2 separate regions of the Homo sapiens genome follow, and region 2 is linked to region 1. The links come from fine-mapping of genetic effects on gene expression. A gene starts in region 1. The other region holds a variant in brackets. All regions are shown on one strand. Distances are from middle to middle.

Region 1 (2,906 bases):
TGGGAAGGTTTCAAATTTCACCCTTAATACTACAAGTTCTAATTAGGAATCATTTTTACATACTTGCATATAAATTATACCACCCAGGTGAAAACCGGCATTTCAGTTGATTTATTCAACTGATAGAAAAAGAAAAGCTTACAGTCGCTACTGATCACTATTTAAAAACCGGAAAATAAAAAACGTACAATTAAATGCCCTCTTCTGCGTAGAGCTAGGTAGTTTTTTACAACCATACACATCCATACAACCGCCATCCCTTAATTTTTCTAATATTTTCGTCTCGCATATCAAACCAAAACCAAACCTCTCTCTCTTCCGGGAGCGAAGAGCCCTTTCACTCCCTTCGGAAGATGCGTAAATTTCAAAAGAGGAACATAGCGCTGGGGGAGGGTAATAATCTGCAGCTCAAAAAAACCGCGGGTGGAGAAGACGACCCCGGCCCCCGAACGCCTGCTTCTAAGACAAAGCTCAGCACCGCCAACCTCGACAAACATACAAAGAAGAAATACAAAAGCTTCTTCTCACAGTTGGGCGGAGGATGGGGGGCGGAGGGACGGAGGGACGTGAAAAGACGTTACAAACGGATGGCACGGAGAGAGGAGAGGGCCGGGAGCCAGGCAAGCTCGCTGGGGCCCTCGGCGGGGTGTCTAGGCCCGGAGAGGATCGCTGGGAGACCGGCCTCAAGTGACCACCTCCCGAGCCCCGGGAGCCGGAGGCAGCGGCGGGGGCATCCTTCCAGCGGCAGGGGAGGAGCCAGCCCACCTCTCCCCGATGCGCTCGCAGCCAGCTCAGGCAGCGCTCAGGGAAGTGTAAGCGGCGGTGCAGCCCCGCGGCTCCGCAGTAATCGCGCACCGCCAGGCCTCCGCGGACAGCGCTGAGGGCTCCGCGGCCCAGCGGGGGTTGACGCAGTGACTGGGGGAACGCGGCGGCAGCGGGGGCCGCGAGGGCTGCAGAGATCGAGACAACGCCGGTCCCCGCCCTCCCGCGCCTCTAGCCGCAGGCCGGCCGCCCTCCTCCCTCCCGCGCCGCAGGCTTGGCCCGCGGCCCCCTCCCCGCGCCCGGCGCTCCGCCGCGCAACGTCCTACCTGCAGGTGACCTGTTTAGTCCAGCCGCCGCCGCTGCCGTCGCTGCCGCCGCCCCCTCCGCCCGCCCCCAGGGACGGGGCGGTGACTGTGGGGATCGGGGTGGGGGAGGCTGCTGCCGCCGTCGCCGCTGCCGCTCCTGCTCCTGATGTTGTGGCTGTTGTTCCGGGAGTTGCAGCCTCCGCCATTACTGTTTATCCCACACAGCAAAGGCCCCGGAACTTCCGGGATCACATAGTTCCGGTCCGGCTGCGGGGAGAGGACGGCGAGGCCAGGCGAGGGGAGGGGAAGGACACTGAGGCACCCGTTCGGTCCCCGCCTGCTACGCGTCGCGTATCTGAGCGCTCTCGCCACTTCAACTGCGGGCCCAGAGCATGCGCGCCCGCGGCCCGCCCACGGCGCCGCTCATTGGTGGAGGGGACGTCTCCTCCGGAAAGGGGCGGGGCAAACGGGGGTCTGTACAGGTGTGTCCTAGGCTCGAAACCCCGGCGACGAAAGTCCATAGTTAGCGGCTTTCTTCCTAGCAGAGGCTGATATAGTGGAGCTGGGGCTGGGGACTAGGGACTTGCAGTCGGAAGACCTGGGTTTGAATCTGCACTTTCCCATTTCTCTAGTAATATTTGAGCTAGGTACTTGTTCTATCTGAGCCTCCGTTTCAGCCTCTCTCGAATAAGGATGACAGCAGACCCACATATGGTTGCTGTGAGGATTATATGATGTCCTTAGAAATCACTGAGCTTAGTGCCTGGTACATGGTAAACACTTAATAAAGGTTATCTCATTCCTGGTATCAGAGATGTGATCTTGGCCAAGTATTTTGGCTGAGCAATGCTCTAGAGGGCTGGTCCCCTTATCTCCAGGCTTCCCTTTCTAAGCCATGGGTCTTCTAGCAAATTATCCTACCTCTTGGTGCTCCTGCTTTCTCCTCTGTAAAAACGACAATAATAATAATAATAGGCCAGGCGCGGTGGCTCACGCCTGTAATCCCAGCACTTTGGGAGGCTGAGGTAGGCGAATCACCTGAGGTCATGAGTTCGAGATCAGCCTGGCCAACGTGGTGAAACCCCGTCTTTACTAAAAATACAAAAATTAGCCGGGTGTAGTGGCTAGTCCCAGTTACTCAGGAGGCTGAGGCAGGAGAATTCCTTGAACCCGGGAGGCGGAGGTTGCAGTGAGCCGAGATCGCGCCACTGCACTCCAGCTTGGGCGACAGAATGAAATTCCGTCTCAAAATAATAATAATAGTAATAGATAATAGTACCTACTTCAGAGATGGCTGTGAAAGTTAAATGAGAATCTGTTTAAAAACCTTTGTACTGGCCGGGCGCGGTGGCTCACGCCTGTAATCCCAGCACTTTGGGAGGCCGAGGGGGGCGGATCACCAGGTCAGGAGATTGAGACCATCCTGGCTAACACGGTGAAACCCCGTCTCTACTAAAAAATACAAAAAAATTAGCCGGTCATGATGGCGGGCGCCTGTAGTCCCAGCTACTCCGAGGCTGAGGCAGGAGAATGGAGTGAACCCGGGAGGCGAAGCTTGCAGTGAGCCGAGATCGCGCCACCGCACTCTAGCCACTGCACTGCAGCCTGGGCGACAAAGCTAGACTCCATCTCAAAAAAAAAAAACAAAAAGCAAAAAAAAAAAAAAAAAAACCCCTTTGCATTGTGCTTTTCACACTGCAGTGAATACATAATGAGTAACAAAATATGTCTGGAATATCCTAGCTTTTTTTTTAATGCGTCTTTAAAATTGTATGTATTTAAGGTGTAAAACATTGTTTTAATATACATGTACCTAGTGAAGTGATTACTACAGTCAAG
Region 2 (2,906 bases), 22 kb after region 1:
TTCTCCTGCATACAATTTTTTTTTTTAAATTTTTTGAGATGGAGTTTCGCTCTTGTTACCCAGGCTGGAGTGCAATGGCACGATATTGGCTCACTGCAACCTCTGCCTTCCGGTTTCAAGCGATTCTCCTGCCTCAGCCTCCCGAGTAGTTGGGACTACAGGTGCCCGCCACCACGTCCGGCTAAATTTTGTAATTTTTTTTTTTTCTGAGATGGAGTCTCACTCCCTTGCCTAGGCTGGAGTACAGTGGTGCAATCTCAGCTCACTGCAAGCTCCACCTCCTGGGTTCAAGTAATTCTCCTGCCTCAGCCTCCTGAGAAGCTAGGATTACAGACGTGCACCACCACACTCAGCTAATTTTTTTGTATTTAGTAGAGACAGGGTTTCACCACATTGACCAGGCTGATCTTGAACTCCTGACCTCGTGATCTGCCCACCTCGGCCTCCCAAAGTGCTGAGTGAGCCACTGGGCGCTTCCAATTTTTGTTTTTTTAGTAGAGATGGGCTTTCACTATGTTGGCCAGGCTGGTCTCGAACTCCTGACCTCACCTCGTCCTCCCAAAATGCTGGGATTACAGGAATGAGCCACCACGCCCAGCGTGTGAGCCACCGCGCCCAGCAAAATTTTTTCATAGTTTCAGATTCCTTTCATCTTATTTTTAAATTTTTATTTATTTATTTATTTTTTGAGATGGAGTCTCATTCTGTTGCCCAGGCTGGAGTGCAGTGGCGCAATCTCAGCTCACTGCAACCTCTGTCTCCTGGGTTCAAGCAATTCTCTTGCCTCAGCCTCCCGAGCAGCTGGGACTATGCCATGTGCCACCATGCCTGGCAAATTTTTTTTTTTTTTTTTTTTTGGTAGAGACAAGGTCTCTTTATGTTGGCCAGGTTGGTCTTGAACTTCTGGGTTCAAGTGATCCTCCTGCCTCAGCCGCCTAAAGTGTTGTGATTAGAGACTTGAGCCACCACGTCCAGCTTCTGATTAATTTTAAAGTTAAAATTAAAATCCTTAACATGATCTACAGAGCCTTACGAAATTTGACCCTGTTATGGGCTAAATTGTATCCCGCACCCCTAAATTCATGTGGAGTCCTAACCCCCTTTACCTCAGAATGTAACTGTATTTGGAGACAGGGTCTTTAAAGAGGTAATTGAATTAAAATGAGCTCATTAAGATGGGCCATAATCCAACATGATTCCTTAGAAGAAGAAGAGATTAGGACATAGACACCCATAAAGACCCATAAAGGGATGGCCTTGTGAGGACACAGAAGACTCCTCTGCAAGCCAAGGAGAGAGATGTTAGGGGACACTTGCCCTGCCAATAAAACCACCTTTGCCAAAATTATAACTGACAGAATTATTACAGTGAAAGAGATCTGACTTAACTGACTCCATCCTGCTTCTTTTTTTTTTTTTTTTTTTTTTTTTAAGACCAAGTCTTGCTCTGTCACCCAGGCTGCAGTGCAGCTCAATCTCAGCTCATTGCAACCTCCGCCTCCCGGGTTCAAGAGATTCTCCTGCCTCAGCCTCCCGAGTAGCTGGGATTACAGGTGCCTACCACCACGCCTGGCTAATTTTTGTATTTTAGTAGAGATGGGGTTTCACCATGTTGGCCAGGTTGGTCTTGAACTCTTGACCTCAGGTGATCCGCCCACCTCAACTTCCCAAAGTGCTGAGATTACAGGCATGAGCCACCGCACCTGGCCCGACCTGTGCATTTATTGTTGGAGCATAAAGGCCTAGGCAGCCAGGGCAGCTTGCAGCCAGCTGGTGGCTGGACTTAGTCCTGCAGGCCATGGGGAGCCCCTGGGTGGTTTCAGGCAGAGG[A/G]CTGGCATGGTCAGATTACATTCTAGCTGTGGAAGAAAGGCAGCTCTGGGCCCTGCAGCTGCCGGTTTTGCTGGTGTTATCTACCCTTCTAACTGGGATGTTTCCAAGTTCTACTCAAGGTTTCTACACACAAGCTGTTCTGAAAAACAAATCAACCCTGTTAATTGAGTCAAGTAAACAAGTCCTGACCATTTATCGGAGACCTTAGCGCCTGCCTTGCAGTCTGTCTATGCCAAGCCATATCAAAATTCTGGACAGCTTTAAAATCCACATGTGGGCTGGGTGCGGTGGCTCATACCTGTAATTCCAACACTTTATGAGGCCGAGGTGGGAGAATCGTTTGAGCCCAGCAGTTCGAGACCAGCCAGGGCAACATAGTGAGACTTGGTCTCTACAAAAAACAAAAAATTAGGCCGGGCGGGGTGGCTCACGCCTGTAATCCAAGCACTTTGGGAGGCTGAGGTGGGTGGATCACCTGAGGTCAGGAGTTCTAGACCAGCCTGGCCAACATGGTAAAACCCCGTCTCTACTAAAAATGCAAAAATTAACCGGGCCTGGTGGCAAGCACCTGTAATCCCAGCTACTCGGGCAGGGGGGCCGAGGCAGGAGAATCGCTTGAACCCGGGAGGCGGAAATTGCAACGAGCCGAGATCACGCCATCGCACTCCAGCCTGGGGGACAAGAGTGAGACTTTGTCTCAAAAAAAAAAAAAAATTAGCCAGTCTGGTGGCGCACACTTGTAGTCCCAGCTACTTGGGAGGCTGAAATGGGAGGATCACCTGAGCCCAGGAGGTTGACACTGGAGGAAACTATGAGCTCACCAATACACTCCATGCGTGACAGTGAGACCCTGTCTCAAAATAAAATAAGAAAAATATGTCAAATTAATAGAGACAAAAAGTAGAATGGTGGTTGCCAGGAGTTGGAAAAAGGGGGAATGGGGGTTGTTTAATGGGTATAGAATTTTGGAAGATAAAAAAAATTCTGGAGATGGATGATGGTAATTGTTGTATTAGGTTGGCACAAAAGTAGTTGCGGTTTTTGCCATCACTTTCTTTTTTCTTTTTTTTTTTTTT

The links. PIP is the estimated chance that this variant, and not a neighbour inherited with it, causes the effect.
Region 2: its variant is fine-mapped to the expression of MKRN1 in whole blood (INTERVAL, PIP 0.94).

Annotation. Positions count from the first base shown.
Region 1 is chr7:140,478,072-140,480,977 of GRCh38, forward strand. It overlaps MKRN1 (makorin ring finger protein 1), which reads right to left and starts at 1,434. Exons shown (of 8, transcript NM_013446.4): 1 at 1,089-1,434. The coding sequence starts at 1,273. RefSeq lists silencers at 665-744, 1,025-1,164, 1,455-1,564 and enhancers at 700-1,540, 1,871-2,781.
Region 2 is chr7:140,500,338-140,503,243 of GRCh38, forward strand. No RefSeq gene overlaps it. Among named protein-coding and RNA genes, the nearest start is that of MKRN1, 22 kb to the left of the region's middle. The variant A/G (reference allele first, on the strand shown) is at 1,831.